Homo sapiens: one gene and its partners. The protein of the gene in region 4 purifies or fractionates together with the protein of the main gene of each other region. This does not show direct contact. Each region holds a gene or a part of one and is shown on either strand. Other genes may lie near its edges. The genes, in order: PCF11, YTHDF2, SPATS2, PHAX, ZNF148, USF2 and FAM20B.

What was found.
Region 1: the proteins of PHAX (region 4) and PCF11 purify together in Homo sapiens (affinity purification with mass spectrometry; one large-scale study listed by BioGRID and IntAct). This does not show direct contact.
Region 2: the proteins of PHAX (region 4) and YTHDF2 purify together in Homo sapiens (affinity purification with mass spectrometry; one large-scale study listed by BioGRID and IntAct). This does not show direct contact.
Region 3: the proteins of PHAX (region 4) and SPATS2 purify together in Homo sapiens (affinity purification with mass spectrometry; one large-scale study listed by BioGRID and IntAct). This does not show direct contact.
Region 5: the proteins of PHAX (region 4) and ZNF148 purify together in Homo sapiens (affinity purification with mass spectrometry; one large-scale study listed by BioGRID and IntAct). This does not show direct contact.
Region 6: the proteins of PHAX (region 4) and USF2 purify together in Homo sapiens (affinity purification with mass spectrometry; one large-scale study listed by BioGRID and IntAct). This does not show direct contact.
Region 7: the proteins of PHAX (region 4) and FAM20B purify together in Homo sapiens (affinity purification with mass spectrometry; one large-scale study listed by BioGRID and IntAct). This does not show direct contact.

Annotation. Positions count from the first base shown.
Region 1 is NC_000011.10:83,177,631-83,181,130, forward strand, and holds part of PCF11 (pre-mRNA cleavage complex 2 protein Pcf11), read left to right. Parts: intron 1-30; coding exon of another isoform or gene 31-77; exon of another isoform or gene 78-83; coding exon 84-189; intron 190-3,377; coding exon 3,378-3,500. UniProt on the Homo sapiens protein: Component of pre-mRNA cleavage complex II, which promotes transcription termination by RNA polymerase II.
Region 2 is NC_000001.11:28,739,940-28,743,439, forward strand, and holds part of YTHDF2 (YTH domain-containing family protein 2), read left to right. Parts: intron 1-2,463; coding exon 2,464-3,500. UniProt on the Homo sapiens protein: Specifically recognizes and binds N6-methyladenosine (m6A)-containing RNAs, and regulates their stability. M6A is a modification present at internal sites of mRNAs and some non-coding RNAs and plays a role in mRNA stability and processing.
Region 3 is NC_000012.12:49,489,462-49,492,961, reverse strand, and holds part of SPATS2 (spermatogenesis-associated serine-rich protein 2), read right to left. Parts: intron 3,498-3,500; coding exon 3,389-3,497; intron 2,281-3,388; coding exon 2,231-2,280; intron 1-2,230.
Region 4 is NC_000005.10:126,621,447-126,624,946, reverse strand, and holds part of PHAX (phosphorylated adapter RNA export protein), read right to left. Parts: intron 373-3,500; coding exon 103-372; 3' UTR 1-102. UniProt on the Homo sapiens protein: A phosphoprotein adapter involved in the XPO1-mediated U snRNA export from the nucleus.
Region 5 is NC_000003.12:125,225,326-125,228,825, forward strand, and holds the end of ZNF148 (zinc finger protein 148), read right to left. Parts: 3' UTR 344-3,500; downstream 1-343. UniProt on the Homo sapiens protein: Involved in transcriptional regulation. Represses the transcription of a number of genes including gastrin, stromelysin and enolase. Binds to the G-rich box in the enhancer region of these genes.
Region 6 is NC_000019.10:35,267,560-35,271,761, reverse strand, and holds the start of USF2 (upstream stimulatory factor 2), read right to left. Parts: upstream 2,801-4,202; 5' UTR 2,661-2,800; coding exon 2,599-2,660; intron 2,317-2,598; coding exon 2,270-2,316; intron 2,182-2,269; coding exon 2,063-2,181; intron 1,960-2,062; coding exon 1,759-1,959; intron 1,316-1,758; coding exon 1,165-1,315; intron 1,045-1,164; coding exon 957-1,044; intron 680-956; coding exon 621-679; intron 1-620. Other genes in the region: LSR (lipolysis-stimulated lipoprotein receptor isoform 2 precursor), read right to left, coding at 3,903-3,938, 4,028-4,202.
Region 7 is NC_000001.11:179,067,394-179,070,893, reverse strand, and holds part of FAM20B (glycosaminoglycan xylosylkinase), read right to left. Parts: intron 1-3,500. UniProt on the Homo sapiens protein: Responsible for the 2-O-phosphorylation of xylose in the glycosaminoglycan-protein linkage region of proteoglycans thereby regulating the amount of mature GAG chains.

The DNA of each region.
Region 1 (3,500 bases), on a different chromosome or scaffold from region 4:
TGCTTATAATACTATAGTGTTCCTCTGTAGAGAATACATGGAGAATGGTATTAAGAAATTTGTATGTCTCTTCTTAATTGAAGAAGTAAGTGAAGTAACTGCTCAGCCTCCCCCTGAAGAGGAGGAAGATCAAAATGAAGATCAAGATGTTCCAGATCTTACTAATTTTACAGTTGAAGAATTGAAACAGTATGTAATCTAATTTTCTTTAAGATAAAGAGGCAGTGACTTTAATAACACTGTTATAGTGGACATTGTTACTATTAGTGCTTTCCCTTTCCCTTTATCCCTTTTACTGTTTTAACATTTAGGAAGTCTTTTTTTTTTTTTAATGTGGTAAAATATACATAACATAGTCTTTGGGAAGCCTATTTTTAAATCGTCTTTTAAAATATGTCTGCTGTACAAGTACTTGGGCCAAAGGCCACCCCCAAAAGTCTTACTCTGCTGCCCAGGCTGGAGTTCAGTGGCGTGATCCTGACTCACTGCAACCTCTGCCTCCCAGGTTCAAGTGATTCTCCTGGGATTACAGGTGTGCACCACCATACCCAGCTAATTTTTGTATTTTTAGTAGAGATGGGGTTTCACCACGTTGGCCAGGCTAGTCTCGAACTCCTAACCTCCAGTGATCCACCTGCCTTGGCCTCCCAAAGTGCTGGGATTACAGGTGTGAGCCACCACACCTGGTCCCTCAAAATTTTCATTTTTTAATCTGTGATACAGAAAACTTAGGGAGTTTAAATATTAGGTATTGATAATTCATGTATTCCTGTTTAGTTTCATTTTCTGTGTATCATCATTTTTTCTGTATTGATATTCTTAACATTTTTGAGGTTCAGAAATGAGATTTTCATAGTTCAGCATTTACAATTAAAAAAAAATCGGCTGGGCGCGGTGGCTCACTCCTGTAATCCCAGCACTTTGTAAGGCCGAGGCAGGTGGATCACGAGGTCAGGAGATCGAGACCATCCTGGCTAACAAGACCATCCTGGCTAACATGGTGAAACCCCGTCTCTACTAAAAATACAAAAAATTAGCCGGGCGCAGTGGCGGGTGCCTGTAGTCCCAGCTACTCGGGAGGCTGAGGCAGGAGAATGGTGTGAACCCGGGAGGCGGAGCTTGCAGTGAGCCGAGATAACGCCACTGCACTCCAGCCTGGGCGAAAGAGCGAGACTGTGTCTCAAAAAAAAAAAAAAATCTATTTTTCATTTTATAAGTAATGTTAATTGTGGAAAATTAGAACATACTATAAATAAAATCAAGAAAACGTACAACTCTCACTTTATGGATAACAACTGTTAACATTTGGTGCATATCTTTTCATAATTTTCTATTGTATTATAAAAAACATTTAAAGATTTTTCTAGTGAATAAATTCATTAATCCTGTGAGTACTTTATAAAAAATAAAATAGTGAATGAGTTTTTCACTCTTAAAATCATTTTTTAAATTTGAATTAGATACTATAATGTAAAATCCTTTTTTTTTTCAAAGTAATACTTTCACATAAAGGCTTTTAATAAAAGATGGCATCCCTTTCTCCTTCACCCAACACTGTACCCTAGAGGCAATCATTTTATTTTTTTAACTTTTCAAACTATTTTTTCTGCCATTTACCTCTTTTTCCTTTTTTTTTTGAGACAGAGTCTCACTCTGTCACCCAGGCTAGAGTGCAGTGGCCCTGTCTTGGCTCATTGCAACCTCCGCCTCCCAGGTTCAAGTGATTCTCCTGCCGCAGCCTCCTGAGTAGCTAAGATTATAGGCACCCATCACCACGCCCAGCTAATTTTTGTATTTTTAGTAGAGATGGGGTTTCATCATGTTGTCCAGGCTGTTCTCGAACTCCTGGGCTCAAGTCATCTGCCCGCCTCGGCCTTCCAAAATGCTGGGATTACAGGTTTGAGCCACCTATTTCTTATAATACACATAATTTTCTGTTTCTTGATTTACCACATCTGGACATAATCTCTTAACTTTCTGAAAGTGATTTAGGCTGGGCGCAGTGGCTCATGCCTGTAATCCCAGCACTTTGGGAGGCTGAGGTGGGCAGATCACCTGAGGTCAGGAGTTCAAGACCAGCTTGGCCAACATGGTAACATGTCTCTACTAGAACCTGTCTCTACTAGAAATACTAAAATTAGCTGGGCGTGGTAGTGGGCACTTGTAATCCCAGCTACTCGGGAGGCTGAGGTGGGGAGAATTGCTTGAACCCAGGAGGCGGAGGCTTTAGTGAGCTGAGATCGGGCCACTGCACTGCATCCTGGGTGACAGAGCGCGAGACTCCGTCTCCAAAAAAAACGGGCGGGGGGTGGATTTAGCTAGCTCTTGTAGTGTCCTACTAACTCCCCTCCATGTAGTTATAAGACTGTTTTTTATTATTCAGTATTAATATTGTGACTAGATGTTTATTTTGTTGCTGTAACAAAGTACCAGTGTTCTGTTATTTGCTTTATTCTATTTTTTTTTTTTTTTTTTTGAGATGGAGTCTCACTCTGTGGCCCAGGCTGGAGTGCAGTGGCGTGATCTTGGCTCACTGCATCCTCCGCCTCCCGATTCAAGTGATTCTCCTGCCTCAGCCTCCTAAGTAGCTGGGATTACAGGCATGTGCCACCACACCCAGCTAATTTTTGTATTTTTAGTAGGGACAGGGTTTCACCACGTTGGTCAGGTTGGTCTTGAGCTCCTGACCTCGTGATCTGCCCACCTTGGCCTCCCAAAGTGCTGGGATTACAGGCGTGAGCCGCTGTGCCCGGCTATTTTTTTTTTTTTTCTTGGAGTTAATAACTGCTCTGTTTGTTCACTTACTTGGTCTTCTATATATACCTGTTTCTTCCCAAATAGGGAGCCCAGAATTTAAAAAACTAATTATTTGTTGACCACAGCAAACTAATTATTGTTTCCCAATGGTATTCTAAGTTTTCTCTTTAGTTATCCATACTATTATTATTTCTTCTGTCCTTTTTTCACTGTTACACCAGAGTGGAGAAGTTGAATTATTCAGAATGCCAAAGATCTAGAGAGGTGAAATTTAACTGTTCTGCCATGTCCATCTTGACTTGACTCCAAACTAAAATAAGCTAACTATTGCCTTGTTAGCTAGCACAGGATCATTTCATTTTTAGCTAAAAGGAAATAAATAACTGGGTCAGGGCTATCAATAAGAAGACAGGCTCCATCTTCCAAAAGTCACCAAAGTTAAGGTAAAGAGGGTCAATCACATTGTTAGAGAATAATACTGATCTTTGGGTATTAACTGTTTCAGCCAGCTCTTGGTTTCACCATTGTTACAGTATGGAAAATTGAAATATTTGTAATTGGCTTTTAAAGGCCATTAAGCCATATTATCAACACTAAAGATTATTTCTTTTTCAAAATAGACGTTATGACAGTGTTATAAATCGACTGTACACTGGTATTCAGTGTTACTCTTGTGGAATGAGGTTTACAACATCACAGACAGATGTTTATGCAGATCATTTGGACTGGCATTATCGGCAAAA
Region 2 (3,500 bases), on a different chromosome or scaffold from region 4:
CTGAAAGGTCAAGAAATTTATAAGTTCTGAACGTATGCTGTATGAAACATAGTTGGTAGTCCTGAATAACTGCATGCCCATATATGGATCTGATTATCACATAAAACTTGTAGAATCCCTGTGTAAAATTTTCAACACTGAAAGTATAGAAACCACTTGAGCAAGTGATTGGAAAAAAGTTTTCACAAAACACAACCAGTTAATCAGGAAAAGTAGGGAAGGAAGTAGAGGAATGAACTATTAATAGGTTCCTGCTATTGAAGTAGTTTGCTTACATAATCATTATAACAGGGAGAGTTGGAGCATTTAGAAGCATAATTCTAGGTAGTTCTTGTAAAACATTGTGTAATTCAAATTTTTTAGCTTGAGCATGTGGGAGCCTGCCAGTTCAGGTACAGACATTCAACTGTGTCTTGGCATAACCTGTGATATTAAGTGCATTTGATTTTTCTTTCTCAGGTAAGCCAAAGCTTAAATGTCTTTGTTTAAAAAAAATTTGGCTAATAATATAAATCTTAGATGAGTAGATGAGGAAGGGTAACCTGAGAATCTAGTTCATTGTCTAGAGTAAGTCATCTACTTTTTAGCCAATTTTTCATTACCCTATTTTGGAATAATACTTCAAGTTTAATCTGTTGATTATAGGCTGAATTTCTTATATATGTGGATTTGGGTCTGCTAAAATTTTTAACCTTACCTTTGTGAGAAATTTTAAATGTGAAAAGGGTATGTGTGAAAAGACCTCACTTTTGTTTTTATGTATTATTTATTTATTTATTTTTGAGATAGAGTCTCACTCTGTCACCCAGGCTGTAGTGCAGTGGTGCGATCTCGGCTCACTGCAACCTTCACCTCCTGGGTTCACACCATTCTCCTGCCTCAGCCTCCCGAGTAGCTGGGACTACAGGCGCCCGCCACCATACCTGGCTAATTTTTTGTATTTTTGCTAGAGACGGGGTTTTAACTGTGTTAGCCAGGATGGTCTCGATCTCCTGACCTCGTGATCCTCCCACCTTGGCCTCCCAAATTGCTGGGATTACAGGTGTGAGCCACCGCGCCCGGCTATTTATTTTTTTTGAGACGGAGTCTTGCTCTGTTGCCCAGGCTGCAGTGCAGTGGTGCAGTCCGGCTTACTGCAACCTCTGTCTCCTGAGTTCAAGCAATTCTCCCACCTTAGCCTCCTGAGTAGCTGGGATTACAGGCAGGTGCCACCACGCCTGGCTAATTTTTGTATTTTTAGTAGAGACGGGCTTTCACCATGTTGGCCGGGCTGGTCTCCAACTCCTGGCCTCAAGTGATTTGCCCGCCTCAGCCTCCCAAAATGCTGGAATTACAGGCGTGAGCCACTGTGCCCGGCCTGTTTTTATTTTATTTTTTTGAGACAGTCTGGCTCTGTTGCCTGGGCTAGAGTGCAGTGGTGCCATCTGGGCTCACTGCAACCTCGGCCTCTTGGATTCAAGTAATTCTACCGCCTCAGCCTCCTGAGTAGCTGGGCCTACAAGTGTGTGCCACCATGCCTAGCTAATTTTTTGTCTTTTTAGTAGAGACTGGGTTTTATCATGTTGGCCAGGCTGGTCTCGAACTGACCTCAAGTCATCCACCCCTCTGTCTCCCAAAGTTCTGGGATTACAGGCGGGAGCCACTGCGCCTGGCCATATTTCTCATTTTACATCCTCCAGAAACCACTGTGCATTTCCTTTTCAGGTTATAACTGAGTAGTGGGATCTATTGATATTCCCAGATAGTTTGCCAAGAGGCTAGCACTATAAACTGGTAGTGAACCTTGCTTTTTGGTTTATGATTGAGGAACGGCTGTACAGACATTTGGGCTAGAACTTGAAATTTCCATTTCTTTTTGTTATTCTTGTTTTATTATCACCTGGTTTGTATAGGAAGTTGATAAAAGGATTATCTCAACACTCAGGACTTAAACAGTTTGTGAAATGCTAAGTTTTCTCTTTACTTAGTTGTAGTGCTAAAGCTAAGGCCCATATTCACTGTATCAGCTTAACTTTAAATGTTTAAACATTTCAGTTATTACACCAAAATTTCTTATGATATAAAAAATGCCCTTGTGTTTATAGGAAATCATCTGATGTGCTGCACACTTTTTTTTTTTTTCCTGGAGATGGAGTTTCACTCTTGTTGCCCACAGGCTGGAGTGCAGTGGTGCGATCTAAGCTCACTGCAACCTCCGCCTCCTGGGTTCAAGTGATTCTCCTGCCTCAGGCCTCCCAAGTAGACAGGGTTTCATCGTGTTGGCCAGGTTGGTCTCGAGCTCCTGACCTCAGGTGATCCACCCGCCTCCACCTCCCAAAGTGTAGGGATTACAGGTGTGAGCCACCGCGTCCGGCCTGCACACTCCTTTTTATAGTATATTTGAATTGCGTGACTAGGTGGGGGGAGGAAATAGCCTGATGTTAATTTTTTGTGTTTTGATTTGCCTTTTTTTTTCTTCCACAGAATAATGCATATACTGCCATGTCAGATTCCTACTTACCCAGTTACTACAGTCCCTCCATTGGCTTCTCCTATTCTTTGGGTGAAGCTGCTTGGTCTACGGGGGGTGACACAGCCATGCCCTACTTAACTTCTTATGGACAGCTGAGCAACGGAGAGCCCCACTTCCTACCAGATGCAATGTTTGGGCAACCAGGAGCCCTAGGTAGCACTCCATTTCTTGGTCAGCATGGTTTTAATTTCTTTCCCAGTGGGATTGACTTCTCAGCATGGGGAAATAACAGTTCTCAGGGACAGTCTACTCAGAGCTCTGGATATAGTAGCAATTATGCTTATGCACCTAGCTCCTTAGGTGGAGCCATGATTGATGGACAGTCAGCTTTTGCCAATGAGACCCTCAATAAGGCTCCTGGCATGAATACTATAGACCAAGGGATGGCAGCACTGAAGTTGGGTAGCACAGAAGTTGCAAGCAATGTTCCAAAAGTTGTAGGTTCTGCTGTTGGTAGCGGGTCCATTACTAGTAACATCGTGGCTTCCAATAGTTTGCCTCCAGCCACCATTGCTCCTCCAAAACCAGCATCTTGGGCTGATATTGCTAGCAAGCCTGCAAAACAGCAACCTAAACTGAAGACCAAGAATGGCATTGCAGGGTCAAGTCTTCCGCCACCCCCGATAAAGCATAACATGGATATTGGAACTTGGGATAACAAGGGTCCCGTTGCAAAAGCCCCCTCACAGGCTTTGGTTCAGAATATAGGTCAGCCAACCCAGGGGTCTCCTCAGCCTGTAGGTCAGCAGGCTAACAATAGCCCACCAGTGGCTCAGGCATCAGTAGGGCAACAGACACAGCCATTGCCTCCACCTCCACCACAGCCTGCCCAGCTTTCAGTCCAGCAACAGGCAGCTCAGCCAACCCGCTGGGTAGCACCTCGGAACCGTGGCAGTGGGTTCGGTCATAATGGGGTGGATGGTAATGGAGTAGGACAGTCTCAGGCTGGTTCTGGATCTACTCCTTCAGAACCCCACCCAGTGTTGGA
Region 3 (3,500 bases), on a different chromosome or scaffold from region 4:
CACACCCAGCTAATTTTTTTGTATTTTTAGTAGAGATAGGGTTTCACCATGTTGGCCAGGCTGGTCTCAATCCCCTGACCTCCAGTGATCCACCTGCCTCGACCTCCCAAAATGCTGGAATTACAGGCATGAACCACCGTGCCCGGCCTCATCTTTCTTTTTCTTACTTTCCCCCATGTGAACTGGCTAAGTTTTCATATCATTGGGTCATGTATATCATAACTATCCCACTCAGAGTCACATCCTATTGGACTAATCCCAACAGTTAAGTGGACTGGACTGGATTTGTGCATTTGGGACTGCTAAACTGAAGTCATATTTCTTTCTCCAAATTTTAAGGAATGTCTGTGTCTCTAACACACATCCTCTTCCAGGTCCATGCACATCTTATATCACTAGTAACTTATAATCCTGGGCTAATAAATTAAGAAACTGGTGTTAGCTGGGTGCAGTGGCTCATGCCTGTAATTCCAGCACTTTGGGAGGCCAAGGTGCGCAGATCACTTGGGGTCAGGCGTTCGACACCAGCCTAGCCAACATGGTGAAACCCTGTCTCTACTAAAAAATACAAATATTAGCCAGGCGCAGTGGCACGCACCTGTAGTCCCGCCCTACGTAGGAGGCTGAGGCATGAGAATTACTTGAACCCAGGAGGCGGAGGCTGCAGTGAGCCGAGATCGCGCCACGGCACTCCAGCCTGGGCGACAGAGCAAAACTCCATCTCAAAAAGAAAAAAAAAAAAGAAAAAAGAAAAAAAAGAAACTGGTGTTTTCCAGGACACTCACAGTTATCTATGTAACAGGTTGAAAGCAGCAGGAAGAAGTTAAACAAATATTCAAAACTACAGGTATGAAGAGCTTCAGAAGAATCTGTGTAGTATTAGGTAACCCTTGGAAAAAATTCTCAAGCGTCACTGAGGCCAAGCCTGGTTTTTGTTCAAGACCTGACAGGACTCCTAAAAAGTGATGTAAGAGTCATGATGAAAGCATTTCAGAACTCCAGCACTGACTTAATAAAGAAAAGAACACCCCAAACAGATTTCACAGAGATACTTGATTAAAATCCATACTTCAAGCATTTCCTAAAGGGGTTACCTTTACAGTGCAGAGCTGTGGGAAGAATTTTGAGACCAGCTGGTATCCTTTGGGAAAAGCATCTGATTTTAAGTAAATAAGGAGAAAGGAACGAGAACTAATATGTTAGGCGTTGTATTATGTATTTGTATTTATTAGAACTATTTTTCTATTTTAGAGATGAGCAAACTAAGGCACAAATGTTAAGCAATATCAGTCACAATGCCAGTAGATAGTGGAACAGGGTAGGAATCCAGTTCTGACTGATCCCATAGCCTGAGTGCTTTCTACCTCTCAAAGTGGAACATCAGACCCCTCTGCAAGGCACCTAATAGCCTTTTTTTTGAGATCAGGTTTCATCATGTTGCCCAGACTTGAACTCCTGGGCGCAAGTGATCCTCCCACCTCAGCCTCCCAAAGTGCTGGGATTACAGGCATGAGTCACCGTGCCTGGCCAGCACCTAACAGCTTTATGTCAAAGCTCATTAATATCAGGACTACAACCCAGTTGCCCGACCAAAAATCTGAACTGTTTTAACTGATTTATGGTATGAATATGGTTGAAAACCACTCAATTAGATCGCTTTCTCTTGCTTTCCTTGATTTGCTGTCTTTTTCACCCGTCTAATAACTGCACCATGGCAAAGTCATTCTGTTTCCTGCCTTAAATCACACGGAGAGGACTGTGTGGTACTCTGTGAGACACAGCTATGTTTCAAGGTCGAAGAATTTTTTTTTTTTTTTTGAGATGGAGTCTCACTCTGTCACCCAGGCTGGAATGCAGTGGCCCAATCTCGGCTCACTGCAACCTCTGCCTCTTGGGTTCAAGTTATTCTCCTGCCTCACCCTCCTGAGTAACTGGGATTACAGGCACGTGCCACCACACCTGGCTAATTTTTTCTATTTTTTAGTAGAGACGGGACTTCACCATGTTGGCCGGGCTAGTCTTGAACCACTGACCTCAAGTGATCCACCTGCCTTGGCCTCCTAAAGTGCTGGGATTACAGGTGTGAGCCCCTGCACCTGGCCAAAGATGTTTTTTAACCAGGTAAACAGAAGATATGTATGTGAACCTTTTCTTTCAAATATTTTTGCAGAGCCTAAATTTTTAAAAATAATATACACATCATCATGCTTTTAAATGTAATTCATTTTACCTTTTTCTTGCCTGTTACTGTCCATTCTTTGAGTACTTCACTGGCACTACCTGTAAGAGAAACCAATTACAGATTTTGTCTCCTACCACACACACAGTAGTCAAGCAGGAGTCAGTGTCCTCCCATTTTGTAATTGCTGGAGAATTTACAAAGCTCCTAACAGAAAAGTTAAAGTTAAGGATCAGGTCTAAAGTAATGTAATGAGATAATCATGCCATGCTTCCCTTTTGGAATACCTGCCTACTTAGACCCCTCCTCTCCGAGTAATTTCCTCAGTAAGTTCTTCTAAGAAGAGACTAATGTAGCTGGGCCATTTTGAAGATTCTCTTATCCATACATCTTAGACCAAATACAAAGGGGATGGCACACTGGTTTTAGCCAAGTGTGCCATCCTTTCCCCTCCAGTTACACACCCACCTTGGCTATGTTGTTTTGGAGACAGCTGCACATTACCCTAGACCAAAACACTAACATTATTTTTTAAAAAGATGAAGATAAAGAAAAACTTTACAACATTCAAACTTGTGCATCCTATGTTGGCAGATTCAGGAAAATAAAAACAGGGAGACCTAACCTCATGTTGCTATTCAAAGACGCAATAGCTTCAGATAGTTTTTCTCCAACAGGTTACATGGAAGGAAGGTTCATAAAACACTTCTCAATGTTATAAATCTGAAGGGTTGACTAAGCCTGCCATTCTTCTACGTATTAGATAAGGAAATTCAAACCCACACATTTGAGTCACTTGCCACAGCCAAACTAACGATATTAGAATCCGGAAGACAATACTGAGTCCTTGAATTTGCCATCTGTTGGTGAGCCACTGAATCACTGCTTTGTTATTAAGAGTCTCTTAAATTCTTATTCAACCCAAGTCCAATCAAGTCCCTTATACCACTGGCCACATGATTTCCTCTTAAATACCATTAGAGAACATTTAGCGTGAAACAATGGAGTTTTCTCAGCTTATCTCTTATTATAGACACCACATAGCTTATTTCAGCTGAAAGAGGTATCGTCAAATGTCATGGTATGTTATGTTTTCATGGGGTCTGCTCTATCATCTATGAATCACTGGATTGCTGAATGTTATAAAAGTCTGAAGCAAATTCTATTTGAGCAAATATAAATTTATTTTTAAAATTAAGTCAGGATTACCTTCCATGAATGCTTGTACTGTTTTGTCCACACAGTTATCAAAGTGCTGCAAAACCAGGATAATTTCATTGTTGCTCTTATTAGGAACTATTGCACGTACCGCATTTATCTG
Region 4 (3,500 bases):
GATTCTCATGTTTATCAGTGCAAAACGTTGCAATCTCAGTAAAAATGGTTTATTACAATGTTATTTTAGAAAGGCTTAGTCCTCAAACTGTTGAAAATGTACTTAAAAGATGTCCAAATCATGAGAATGATCAACTTCAATGGCTTCCTCTGCCTCCAACTTGGCTTCTGCATGTCCTTCCTGTGACTCATCAAGAGAGGCCAAGGCCTCATTCGTGTCACTTGCAAAAGTTTCTCGTGATGTATCATCATCTTCTTGAAAATTTAGACTTTTAATAGCTTGTTTCATCTTTTTCCCCAACACTTGTGTTCTCCTCTTCCTAGCAGCTTTTTTATTTTCATATTCCTTTTGGTTTTCAATGTAGAAAATGTCCTGTAATAAAGGAACAAAGTTAGTAAACAAGAACTACCACGTTATTAAAGGTTTATTCCATGACTGTCCCTTTAAAATCATTATCTCCATTTCTTACAAAAAATACAAGTATTATTAGGCTCATTATTAAGATGGAGTTCAAGATATTAAGTAAGTACTCATTGCAAGATTGAAACTGATTTAAACCCAGCCTAGTGTTAGGTTTAGGGCCCATGCTTATTCTACCTTAATGTATCATCTCTACAGTTAAAAATTTCCTAAATGAAGGCTGGGCATGGTGACTCATGCCTGTAATCCCAGCACTTTGGGAGGCGGAGGTGGGTGGTTCACTTGAGGTCAGGAGTTGCAGACCAGCCTGGCCAACATGGTGAAACCCTGTCTCTCCTAAAAATACAAAAAGTAGCCGGCTGTGGTGGCACACACCTGTAGTCTCAGCTACTAGGGAGGCTGAGGCAGGAGGATCATTTGAACCCAGGAGACAGAGGTTGCAGTGAGCCGAGACTGTGCCACTGCACTCCAGCCTGGGCAGCAGAGCGAGACTGTGTCTCAAAAAAAAAAAAAAAAAACCCAAAACCAAACCAAAACAAAAAGTCAAAAAGTTTTGGAGCATTTTGGATTTTCAGATTAGGGATTGTCAACCTGTACTAAAACAGAGACGGTTCAAAGGTTTAAAAAAGAAGCTAGTGTAGGCAGGACACACTTCTGGGACCCTATTATCTCCTGGGCAGGGATTCCAAAAAGCTCAAGCCAAGCCAGTCCCTGTTATATTCTTAAAGAATACAAATCCCAATCCCTTCTTGTTTATAAAAAGCACTATGGAAGATGGTGGGATGAAGGAGACTCTCTCCTAAAATTTATGCTAAATAGTTACAAGCAGCACACAGAATTAACAGAGGAAGGTGTAAAGATCTTTGAAATGAAGAGGTAAGGGGAAACTTCAGAATATGAGTGTTTTGATGAAGAGAAATAAGAAAAGTATTTGCTAAAGAGGAGGAACTGAGGAGGGAGAAGGAGGGTACATACGTGAGAAAAGACAAAGGTAAATTCAGAATATAATGAGGCTTGCTACCAGTTATCAAGTGAGTACTTTTACGTACCAGGCATTTTGCTAAGGACTTTACACACACATTAACTCATTTCGTCCTCACAAAAGCCTTATGAGGTAGTTAACTATCCTTGTTTTCAGATGTGGAAAATGAGGCACAAGATTACAGGGCTACCATGTGAAGGTATGAAGTCTGAACTCACATATGATTTCTCTAATATTCTCCTTTTTAAAAGTTTTTGATAGAGATGGGGCCTCGCTGTCACCCAAGCTGGAGTGCAGTGTATAATTATACCTCACTGCAGCCTCGAATTCCTGGACTAAAGCAATCCTCCCGCCTCAGCATCCCAAGTAGCTGCTGATTTCTCCTACATTCTTATTTTTTTTCTTCTTCTTTTTTTTTTGAGACAGAGTCTGGCTCTGTCACCCAGGCTGGAGTGTAGTCGTCTGATCTCGGCTCACTGCAATCTCCATTTCCAGGGTTCAAGCAATTCTCATGCCTTGGCCTCTAGAGTAGCTGGAACTACAGGCGTGAGCTACCACACCTAACTATATTTTGTATTTTTAGTGGAGATGGGGTTTCTCCATGTTGCCCAGGCTGGTCTCCAACTCCTGGCCTCAAGTGACCCACCTGCCTCGGCCTCCCAAAGTGCTGGGATTACAGGGGTAAGCCACCGCGCCCGGCCCAATGTTCTTAAAATCTATTATACTGCCTTCACAAAAGTGTGATGATTTGCAATTTTTTCCAAGAGTTCACTTACCTTTAATTCAAAGAATATGAAGAAGCCACAGTAGAAGCATTTTCATTTTATATGGAAGCATATCCAAGCATCTTGCTAAGAATTCTAAGTAGTATAATGCTTGGTAACACTGAGTAAATTTTACGAAACTGCCCTTTTCTCTCCAAATATGGCAAGCCTTATTAAAAAGAAACTTTGGCCAGGTGTGGTAGCGCATTCTTGTAATCCTAGCATTTCAGGAGGCCGAGGTGGTCAGATCACTTGAGGTCAGGAGTTCGAGACCAGCCTGGCCAATATGGTAAAACTCCATCTCTACTAAAAAAAAAAAAAAAAAAAAAAAAAAAAAATACAAAAATTAGGCTGGGTTTGCTGGCTCTCGCCTGTAATCCCAGCACTTTGAGAGGCTGAGGCGGGCGGATCACGAGGTCAGGAGATCGAGACCATCCTGGCCAACATGGTGAAACCCCATCTCTACTAAAATACAAAAAATTAGCTGGGCATGGTGGTGCGAGCCTATAATCCAAGCTACTTGGGAGGCTGAGGCAGGGGAATCACCTGAACCCGGGAGGCAGAGGTTGCAGTGAGCCGAGAGCGCGCCACTGCACTCCAGCCTGGCGATAGAGCAAGACTCCATCTCAAAAAACAAACAAACAAACAAAAACACAAAAATTAGCCAGGCGTGGTGGCGGGCACCTGTAATCCCAGCTACTTGGGAGGGTGAGGCAGGAGAATTGCTTGAACCCAGGATGAGCCAAGATCTCACCACTGCACTCCAGCCTGGGCAACAGAGCTAGGAGACTCCGTCTCAAAAATTAAAAAAATAAACAATAAACAAAATAAAAACAAACTTCATTCCCATGCGTTATGAATTTAATAGAACAAAGTGGGAAATGGTCCCCAAAATGTTGTTGCAACATGTTGTTAATATCTTTATCACAAATGCAGACAGGTAATTTGAGGGAAAATTTCCCCCCTCCCATCCATATCTATATATACTTAACTCTCCAAGTTAAGGATCTAACTCTAGTGTTTTAGCTGAGCTTTTTTTTTTCTTTGAACAAAGCAAATAAAGTTTTAACTATTGCTTTTTTCCTTCAGAAAACTTTGTATTTTTCAAAACAAAACTTAATTGTGAGGTCATGTACCCAAATGGAATTTTAAAACAGGAAAACAAACTTAGTCAAGTTCTGGCTTCTAAGTTCTACATATGGTGACTGTTAGCAATATAGCAATTAAAAGAATAATTATAACATCATCATTTAGGTGGCATCTGAAATAAATGATCTATAATAAAATTTTATTGGTCAGGCATGGTGGCTCACACCTGTAATCCCAGGACTTTG
Region 5 (3,500 bases), on a different chromosome or scaffold from region 4:
ACATTTCACATCCCAGCTCTTACACATATGCATATGCAGCTGTGTGAATGTCTGGGTAAAATGTTCCTTTTAATTACACTTGAAAATGACAAAAGAAAGAAAATTATGAGACCCAAATTTTAGCTTTAGTTCACTTAAAACTTTTCACCTCCATTCATTCTTTATGCATCATATGAATATAATTTATATCCTATCAGGTTCACCAGAGAAGAAATAAAACAGAACAGCCAGCATTCTGAAAAAAAAAATTTTTAAATTCAATCCAAACATATAATCAGGAAAATCTTCATAATCACTTTGTGCATGATAAATTGTCGAGTAAGACTCAATGACAACACATTAATTCAAGTGACTTCAATTTTTTATTTTTTCTTATAATCTTTAGAAGATTGGAGAAGTATCATGTAGAATATCTCCCCTCCCCTCTCCCCACCATTCCTAATCATTCAAGAAAAACTGGGATCTAGGAAATGCATTAGTAGACTATCAGTGGTATTATTATGTACAATTGGTTAAAGCACCATGCTAATAATAAGGCCAGGGTCCTAGGACTGATCATTGCGAGGGCCAATTAGTTTAAATTTGTTCCATGGACCCAGACTGCACTCCTAACCACAGACAACTTTCTTACAATGCATCCCGCTGGTCACAAGCTAGGGTACTGGCAAGGTGGTAGATGGATGAAAACAAATCTCCACTAATGAAAGAAAAAAGAAAAGAAATCCCACGTATGCTGACAGTGGGTTAACAGAGTCTTATCTGTAAAGAAAAGAACACATATTTTCTTCGCTCTATGATAAACACGTTTCAAGTCTAAAATATTCAATGACAGTAACATTTGACTCTTGCATTTTAGAATAACATTCCACATAAAGCTATAATAAAGGCCCTGATAATTGTTACCCAATTTGTGTAACTGTTAATTCCACACAGAAATTCTTTTCTCTTTACGGTTATATCTATGCACCATGATTTTTGCATATTTACCATTCGTTATTTGGTTCAGAATATTGTGAAAAATTCAGCTCGAAAATTATCCATAAAACTGTATTCTATATTTTATTTTTCAAACAGCCAGTGTCCACATTTAAAATGCAGAATTTGCAAATATTAGTCTAATAATTCAATTTAAAGTAAAGCAAAACAACTTCCTTTAGTATCACAATACATAAAATGGTTTTATAAACTCCAAATGGCAAAGATAACTATATGACAATAGTGTTGAAAGCCGTGAAACTCATTAAACCTCTTATCAATAGGTCAGTTTAAAGAACATCTCTATGTTCCATGACTATGCATGAAACAAGCTGTCACTGTATTATAAAGGCTCAGCAATTCATTCATGGCATAATATAGGGTCAAGCAAGATTTTGTTTTTACAATGACAATTAAAACATATTTAAAGAAACAAAAAACCTCCCAATTGTTTAAAAACAATTCTATTTGGAGAGCAAAATATTTTAAAATATATCGACTTACCAAATTTCAATTGTCAGGCTGCTGACTACTGATGTAAAAGTTTATATTTAAAAATATCACAAATCTCTTTTTATTTAACACTGAAAATTTCAATGTGATAAGTTTCATTGCAAAGCAACTGTCACCTGAGTAGATTTTAAAATTTAGTGCTCCTATTTTTTGGGGGAGAGGGGAAGGAAAGACCCATTTTGTATCTGATCCCGAGTTTGCAGTTGAGTCCTTCCCAATGATTTCTTAGGGAGTTGAAGAAACAACCTGCTGCAACCTTCCCAAGACACACGATGCCCCCCTTTCCCTCGGAAATTTGCTCTAGCATTTTAGGAACTCTCAGTATTCATCAAATATTTCCATTTCACTACCCACTCAAGCATAGCAACCCAATTCATTTAGTTCTATACAACAGTGTCTATATTATGTACATATTTAATTATCAATAGGAAATAGAAAATAAAAATTTACAGTGATTGAGAAAAGGTCAGAAAATGGGATAGGAATAGTAATACTGTATAATCAGAATATCCTATTATCTTACCAGTTTTAATGACAGGGTTTTTCCTTTATTAGTTGAAATACAAAGAAGGCATAGGGGATCCCAGGAAAATAACACTATATATCAGAAAATTCAACGTGCTCCACCATCAGGATTTCCATCACACACATTTAATTTCTTCTGTACAATGTTTATAAACTTGTTTTTCTTTTCAAAATCATCAGATTTTCAGATTAAATTCAGCACTACACAGTATGCCCTTGAAGTAAAATGAGGTTACCTGCTTTATTTGGATACCAAGTTCCCTTCAGACAGCATTAAAATAAAGACAAGTAAGACTACACAGATAAAATCCAGTATAATTCAAATCCAACAATGAAAAATTTCCCCCATATTGTTGCAAAATTCTTTCTACTGAAATGCTTTGCTACAATAATAAAAAGCATACATTACATATAAAAGATACCAGTGTACTAAAAAGTGACAGAAGTGGACTAGCAAATCCTTCAAAGCACATTATATAAATGACTAGCATTTAAAAACATTTTTTCCTATAAAATGTAGGTCATATACATTTATAAATTGGCGGTTTTATTTCTAAAGCAGTGATGTGTGTGTTCAAATAGCTGTCCTGTACAGTATAATATCTACTCACTTGAAACTATAATAGGTTTGTCTTTCTTTGTATTGAAGTTGAATAAATTCATCTGATCAGCTGAGAAACCAAGCTTGAAAAATAAGTATCTAAAAATCAATGTAGAAAGTTTAGAATTATTGAAATGTAGTTATGAAATATGAAGAGAACTATCTATTTCACAATGGAGCTGAAGTCACCTCAAAACTTACGGGCTTGAATCTAAAACAGAAACAAATATTAAAATCCAAAGCAAATCACAAAGTTAGGTAGCAGTACAGAAGCAGGAAAAAAAACCACATCCCTTCCTTCAGTGTGATGGGCACTAAGTTTTGCGGTCTTCCTCCATCTTGCAGAAGAGTGGTAAGGCCATTCAATGCTTAGTGAAAGTGAGTACAGATGAAGTCAGATTTAGCCTGTCTCCCCTGCAACTTCAATTATGCTGTGTAAACAGTGTTACGTTCCAATAGGAGGAACAATGGAATTTGCTTATAAAAACTGATTAAAGATAATCATTATTAAATGAAATAAGGATAATTAATAACTCTGAAATGTTTTTAGAACTTTCCTGATGCTACTTGTAAAGTTAGCACTGCTATGTATTATTGCTTACATACAGTACAACATCATATGCCTTCTAACATAAAGCAGTACTGTGATTTGTTTGTACATATTTACAGATTCTTAAAAACAAGCTGTAAAAACATTACATACTTTCAGACAATACAAATTAGCACATTGGTACTCACTTCAAAACAAATGGAATGCATAACATTAATAAACATCATAAAGGAAGACTCACATAAAAGTCCTTGATTGTCAAGACACGTTTATATATAAACTCTAACTGTGCAGAATTAAAGATTCAATCATAGGTACATCCTTATTTGATGAACC
Region 6 (4,202 bases), on a different chromosome or scaffold from region 4:
GATGGTTGTTTGGGTGTAAGCACTCTCCTGGCACTTGCACAGTGCTGTGCCCACTGCAGTGGCTACTGACAGGCGGGGCGGGACAGTGCTGAAGGCCAAATGACCTGAGGTGAGACCTGGTGTTTCTGGAAAGGGCAGGATGCTCCGGCCTTAGGTAGCCAGAGGCAGAACTTCATGCAGTTTCTCCCTCAGATGTGCTCCCTGGGGGAACAGACCTACTTCTGGAGGCCAGGCAGGCATGGGAGTGCGGGATGTGAGCATGACAGCTGCCACGTGGAAAGGTCAGCCCACGTGAGCCCGGTCAGCCCCATTTTTCAAGTGGGGCAGGCAATCCGTATGGGAGTGTGAAGTCCACCATCTTAGATGTGGGCCATGAATTCAAGATCACCAGCCGGGTCAACAAATGGCCAGTTCCAATTCACACTCCCTGTCCCTCTACTTCTGACACTGTACTCTCCCCTCGTTGCTCACTTTCTACCTTTACAGCGTCCAGCAAAGCCCTCTGGAGCACTTGTGGCCTGCCCAGGAGTGGCTTCTCTCTCTGTCACTCCACACTCCAGGGCTGGCTGAGCCTGTGAGGGTGGTGGTCAGGGGGACCCGGAGCCACACCTTGTCCTCACCTTCGTTGTGCTGGGCTCTTCTCCTCTCATCTCGGGGTGTTCTGGTTCCATCAATTTTTCTACAAGAGGAGGAAAAAAAAAGGGGGCATGTATTATCGCAGAGCTGTTTGCCCAAGCATCTGCTAAGTATTAGATTTGAAAATTATCTTTGCAAGGTAAATCCATCTGCAAAAACAAAAGACATGATACTTTATGTGCACTAGAGCAGCAGAAACAGGCAAAGAAAAAAAACATTACACCATGTGCCCACTTCATGCTAACTGCCCAGCTTCTACTCCAGAAACCCCTCTTCCTTCCATTTCAACACCAGGCCCTCCAGGTGTCCCCTGCACATACGGAGAGTAAGGGTGTGTCCGGGGGGCGATCGTCCTCTGTGTTCCTGTCTGAAGCACATCCTGGGGCGTCATCATGACGTAGAACTGGCCTGCAGGGAGAGTGGGGGGTTAGTGGCAAGGCAGGGTGAAGTCAGAACTGGCTGGGGGGGCTTCCCTCCCTGCTGGGCCCGTTGCCTCCCCCACCTGCCAATCTGACTTCTACTCCTCACCTCCAGCCTGCAAGCTCTGGTCTGTGGTCTGTACGGACACAGCCGTAGTATCTCCCACACTGGACGCTGGGAAATAGGCAAATCGTGCCTCCCCGCTGACAGCCTCGGCCGCCGGACTGCCACCATTGCTGAAGGGATTTTGGATCACAGCCTGGGGAGTAGGAGGGCAGAGGCTACCCTTAGCTTTCTCTGTTCCTCCATCCCGTCCCCTCATTGCTGTGCTTGGGGTTTACTGCATTCTCTGCAATTAACAGGAGTGGGGACTCCTTCTGCGTGTAGCATTCTGTCCTGTGTTTCAAACAGCCCTGGAACATGGCGGGAGGTCAGCGATCACTTGCTGAGCAAATCCGTTTCGCACTCTAAGAAACTTTCCTCTTAAGACACATCATTCCCATTTTGCGGGAAAAAAAAATTCCAAGAGCACTGTCCCCAGGTTTCACGGTGCACAACAGGGATCTGGCCCCATGCAGCCTGAGGCCTGAAGGCAGCATCCGCTGGGCGACACCTGCCCCACCCCCGGGGCTCCCCAAGAGCAGAGCCAGTGTCCCCTCTCCACTCCCTCCCCCCCCCACCCAGGGGTGGCAGGGCACCTACCAGCGGGAAGGGCGCTGCAGGACCTGGGGGCACAGAGGCAGCGGCGGGGCCCGGGCGCTGGGCTGCCCCGTCCACACCCACCTGGGTCACAGCCTGCTGCCCCCCCGCGAAGGCAGCGGTGGACACGACGCTGACGGCGCCAGCTGTGTCGCCCTGGCCGTCCAGCTGACCATCAGTCACCTGGACTACGCGGTATGTCACCTGCAGGGGGCGGCAGAGCGGCGAGGCCGGCGCTGGGGCCAGGTCCGAGCCTTCCCGGCGCGCCCGCCCGCCCGCCCGTTCGCCCTCGCGGCCCGCCGCTCACCTGTCCTCCATTTGTCTCTGTGCGGAACTGGTACTGGATGTTGTGGTCGCCGAACGCCGCCTGCTGGACGCTGGTGATGGCCACCGCTGTCTGCTCCTCCGCTCCTGGGCCGTCCCCGCCTGGGGCCGAGGAGGGTCGGGGCACGGTCAGGGCCGCGCCGAGCGCCCCCAGCCCTCCCCGGGCGCGGCCGGCCCGGCAAGCACTCACCTTCCTGCAGCTCGACGCCCTCCTCCGCCTCGGGTCCCTTGTCGTGGCTGCCAGGGGCACAGGAGGGAGCAGGGTCAGCGCGGCCCGCGCCCGCGCCCCCGCCCCCGCGCCCAGCTGCAGGGCCCCAGTCCCACCCGGCCGCGCCTGAGGCCGGGGGCGCCGCCGAGGCCGGGGGCCGGGGGCGGGAGGCGCCAGGTCCCCCCCGCGCCGGCGGCCTCCATTTTGAGCCGGGCCCGCGGCCGCTCGGGATCATGGCGGCCCCGGCCTGCAGGCCGCGGGGCCGGGGCCGGGGCCGGGGCGCGGGGGCACGGCCGGGCCGGGGATCTTACCTGGCGGCGGCAGCAGCGGTGGCCGAGGCAGCGGGATCCAGACCCGGGTCCAGCATGTCCATGGGGGGGGCGGGGGCGGGGGGGGCGCGGGGCCCGGGGGGGAGGGGAGGGGAGGGGAGGGAGGGAGGGGAGGGGGCGGGCGGCCGGGGGGGCCCCGAGCCCGGCGCTCACGCCGCGCGGCAGGAGGGGACGGAGGAGATACGGGAGCCGCTCGCGCTGATCACGGGGACAAACAGTGGGGTCATGTGAGGAGGAGATGCCGCCGCCGCCGCCGCAGCCGCCGCCGCTCCTGCAGCCGCTGCAGCCGCCGCCGCCTCCGCCTCCGCCCGCCCGCCGGCTCCGGGCGGCCCGAGGCTCCGGGACGCCGCGCGGCCGCCCCCAGCCCACCCAGCTGCCCGCCCGCTGCACGCGGCCCTCAGGCCTCCTTCCCTGAGCAGCCGCCGCCGCCGCGACTTTTTTTTTTGAACACGGCCCGCCCTGGCTGGCCGCCGCCAGTGCCCTGGATCGCCGGCTCGCGCGGCCGCCGCCCGGCTTGGCCCAGTCCGGCGGCGGATCGCTGCTGCAGCCGCCGCCGCTTTCTATTTTTCCCCCTTTTTTTTTTCCTCCTTTACTTGAGCTGCGCGCGCGCGGCGGCGGCGGCGGCGGCGGCGCGAGCCCCGGGGCGGACGCGCGCTGGGGGGAGGCGGCCCGGGGCGCGCGCGCTGGTCTGTCTCCGGGGGCGGGCGGGCGCGCGCGAGCCCGGGGCTCCGCGGGGCGCGAGGTCGCCGCGCGCCGCCCTGGTGAAACGCGGGTCTGGATGGAACGTCGGGGTACCCGGTGCAGGGGCTGGGGTCGTCGGGGGCCAGGTGGGCTGCCCGAGTTTGGAGACAGTAAAGTAGGTCGGTGGGGGGCTGGGGGGGATGGGCTGGAAGGGGAGAGGAGCGCGCGCGCGTCCCGGACGGCCAGCCTGCGGTGCGCGAAGGCGGAGGGCCGGGGCGCATGCGCACGCCTGGGCGGGGCCGGGGCGCGCACGCAGGCGGGCGGCGGCTGCGCGGGGCACGTTCTCCGGCCGGCGGCGCGGGCGCGGGCCGGGCCAGGCTGGGTCTCTTCCTCCCGGCCCCGGACTCCGGTGCCCCCGGGACGCGGCGCTTTACAGACGCATACGGGAGCAGCCCCGGTCCCCCGCCCCGCGCGGCCGAACAAATGGTTCTCTCCAGAGCTTGTGATTATACGTTTTATTAGACTCGGGAGGGGTATGGCAGGGCTTCATCAGTGTTCCTTCAAATTAAAAAAAAAAATACAAAAGCTACGTAGAAAACGTCAGATCAGACGACTAAACTTTCCCGACTCAGGGCCAAGTTCTGCAAGGGAGAAAGAAAGAAGGGTATGAGCCGCGGGGACCGGCTGGGGGCCCAGGGACGGTCTGGACGCCAGGGAGGGCGGCCCTCACCTTCTTGAGCCTGCGCTCTCGGGACGCCTGCGAGTCGGTCTCCGAGTACGGGGGCGGCGCGGGCGGGTAGTAGGCCTCTTCCTCCTCCTCCTTGTGGGGTCTCCTCCTCTCCTCCGACCCCTTCTTCCTCACAGCCTCCTCCAGTAGCCGCCCATCATAGGGGAGGTCCCCGGAC
Region 7 (3,500 bases), on a different chromosome or scaffold from region 4:
TTTAAGAGGTCGTTAGGCCATGAGTGCTCTGCCCTCATGGGTGGAACTAATGCTGTTATTAAAAGGCAAGTTCAAGGCCAGGAGCGGTGGCTCACATCTGTAATCCCAACACTTTGGGAGGCCGAGGTGGGCCCTCAGGTTGGGAGTTCAAGACCAGGCTGGCCAACATGGTAAAACCCCGTCTCTACTAAAAATACAAAAATTAGCTGGGCGTGGTGGCAGGTGCCTGTAATCCCAGCTACTTGGGAGGCTGAGGCACAAGAATCACTTGAACCCGGGAGGTGGAGGTTGCAGTGAGCCAAGATTGTGCCACTGCACTCCAGCCTGGGCAAAAGAGCAAGACTCCATCTCAAAAAAAAAAAAAAAAAAAAAAAAAAAGGCGAGTTCAGCCCCTTGTTGCCCTCTCTCTTTGCCCTTTTGCCTTCTGCCATGTGACATGATGACACAGCAATAAGTCCCTTGTCAGATGCTGGCACCTTGATATTTAACGTTCTAGCCTCCAGAACTGTGAACCAATAAATTTCTGTTCATTATAAATTACACAGTCTGGCCAGGTATGGTGGCTCATGCCTGTAATCCCAGCACTCTGGGAGGCCCAAGGGGTCAGATCACTTGAGGTCAGGAGTTCGAGACCAGCCTAGGCAACATGGTGAAACCCCATCTCTCCTAAAAATACAAAAATTACCCGGGCATGGTGGTACATGCCTGTAATCCCAGCTACTTGGGAGGCTGAGACATGAGAATCACTTGAACCTGGGAGGCGGAGGTTGCAGTGAGCCAAGATCGCGCCACTGCACTCCAGCCTGGGCAACAGAGCGAGACTCCATCTCAAAATAAGATAAAATAAAATAAAATAAATTACCCAGTCTGTGGTATCCTGTTACAGCAGCACAAAACGAACTAAGACACCAACTATAGCATATCTTTTATTTAAAATCTGAGAAGAAAAGTTCTTAGCTCTCTGTGGGTAAAGGAGGAATTACTGGGTATGCAGAAATGTCTGATTCTGTAAAAGGCAGCCTGTTGTGCAGCAATTTAAAAGGTAAGAAAGACTGCTGCATAAAGCATGCATGGAAGGGACAAACAGGCACAGACGGAGTACAGTTATTTTTATTCTTAAATATATTACAAATGCCCAGAGCATCAGAGCTTCCTCTGTGAGACTAAGTTATTATGTTACTTCCTCTCAGCTCCAAATTCACTCTTCAAAATATGCTCTGCTGGCCAGGCACGGTGGCTCATGCCTGTAATCCCAGCACTTTGGGAGGCCAAGGCGGACGGATCACCTGAGGTCAGGAGTTCGAGACCAGCCCCACCAACATGTTGAAACCCTATCTCTACTAAAAATACAAAAAATTAGCTGGGCGTGGTGGCAGGTGCCTGTAATCCCAGCTACTCAGAAGGCTGAGGCAGGAGAATCGCCTGAACCCGGGAGACAGCGGTTGCAGTGAGCCGAGATCGTGCCACTACACTCCAGCCTGGGCGACAGAGCGAGACTCCATCTCAAAAAACAAAACAAAACAAAAACAAAAACAAAATGTGCTCTGCTACGACGGATGGGATTCCTTTAAGCATCTTTCCCCTAAAGCATTCTCACTAGAGGGCGCAAAGGGGACACTGCAGGGTGAAGGGGCTCTCCAAATGCTTCTGTGGGTCAATGGTGGTGTTGGGGAGGCAGAGAGGTCATCCACTGAAGACCTGTCTAGCCACACTCCCAGAAGGTGTGGGTCCTTGGTGACCTGAAGCCTTAGCCTGGCCTGGGGATAACTCTCCCGAGGCCCTCTCAACATGGAAACCAGAGCTTTGAAGGCCATCTGCTCACCCTGGCCCCAATTCCCTCTGAAGGCCCACGTGTGTGCCTCACTTGCAGCACAGAAGGTTTCTACTGGATTCTCTCTCTCCTTCTGCATGTCATGACACCAGCTGTGGCTTGAATGTACACCCCACCTGCACTCTGGAGAGTTGCTTCTGGCTTGCTCAGCACCTGCAAACTAGCAAACTTCTCTGCTATCTGGTGGGCTGAGCTAAACCTTCTCCACTGAAGTCCAAACTCCAGTCATTGGGAGGGGATCCCCTTCCAAGTTTGTCCTTCCTTGGGTACTCTCCCTCAGCCCTTTTATAGTCACTCCTGTTATTGGAATTTAATAATTCTTTATATTGGGTCGGGCGCAGTGGCTCACGCCTGTAATGCCAGTAGTTTGGGAGGCCGAGGCAGGCAGATCACAAGGTCAGGAGTTCTAGACCAGCCTGGCCAATATGGTGAAACCCCGTCTCTACTAAAAATACAAAAATTAACCAGATGCAGTGAGGGGCGCCTGTAATCCCAACTACTTGGGAGGCTGACGCAGGAGAATCACTTGAACATGGGAGGTGGAGGCTGCAGTGAGCCGAGATCGCGCCACTGTACTCTAGCCTGGGTGACAGAGCAAGACTCCATCTCCAAAAAAAAAAAATTCTTTATATTAAACACCTCTGTTTATCACACTATGTCTTTGCTATCTCCTGATTGAACCAGACTGATAAAACTACTACCACAAAAACATCTTCAAAGACAAACACACAATTCTTGATTGTATATATCACTGCTTCCTATCATTAATAAAGACAATGAAGGACAGCCTGGGTAAACTGTTACTTTCTACAGAATTTTGTTGTCATTTAAAAAAAGAAAGAAGATTAAGAGACCAGTTGCTATGGCAGTCTTATGTGATATGATGTTGCTGGGAGCTGACCAGTATTAAATGGTGCTCTTGAACTTGTTTTTCTGTGTAGCCAAGCAAGGTGGATCCCAGCTAATTCTTGATGTGCGTGCTCTAAAATTACACCAGGATGGTCGGGCGCGGTGGCTCACGCCTGTAATCCTAGCACTTTGGGAGGCTGAGGCAGGCGGATCACTTGAAGTCAATAGTTTGACACCAGCCTGGCCAACATAGTGAAACCCGTCTCTACTGCAAATACAAAAATTAGCTGGGTTTGGTGGCAGGTGCCTGTAGTCCCAGCTACTCGGGAGGCTGAGGCACAAGAATTGCTTAAACCCGAAAGGCAGAGATTTCGGTGAGCTGAGATCGCACCACCACACTCCTACCTGGGTGACAGATGCAGACCCTGTCTCAAAAAAATAATAAAATAAAAAATAAAATAGTAAAATAAAATTATTTCAGGAATGATGAAAAGAAGCTTCTTAGAGCTTAGACTTTATCTCATTTTCTTGACTCATTTTTCAATTTCTCTGTTCTCTAATACAGAGTTTTTTTAAAAAAACCAATTATTATTTATTATTTATTTTTTTTGAGACAGAGTCTCACTCTGTCACCCAGAATGGAGTGCAATGGCACAATCTCGGCTCACTGCAACCTCTGCCTTCCAGGTTCAAGCAATTCTCCTGTCTCAACCTCCTAAGTAGCTGGAATACTGGTGCCTGCCACCATGCCCGGCTCATTTTTGTATTATTAATAGAGACGGGGTTTCGCCATGTTGGCCAGGCTGGTCTCGAACTCCTG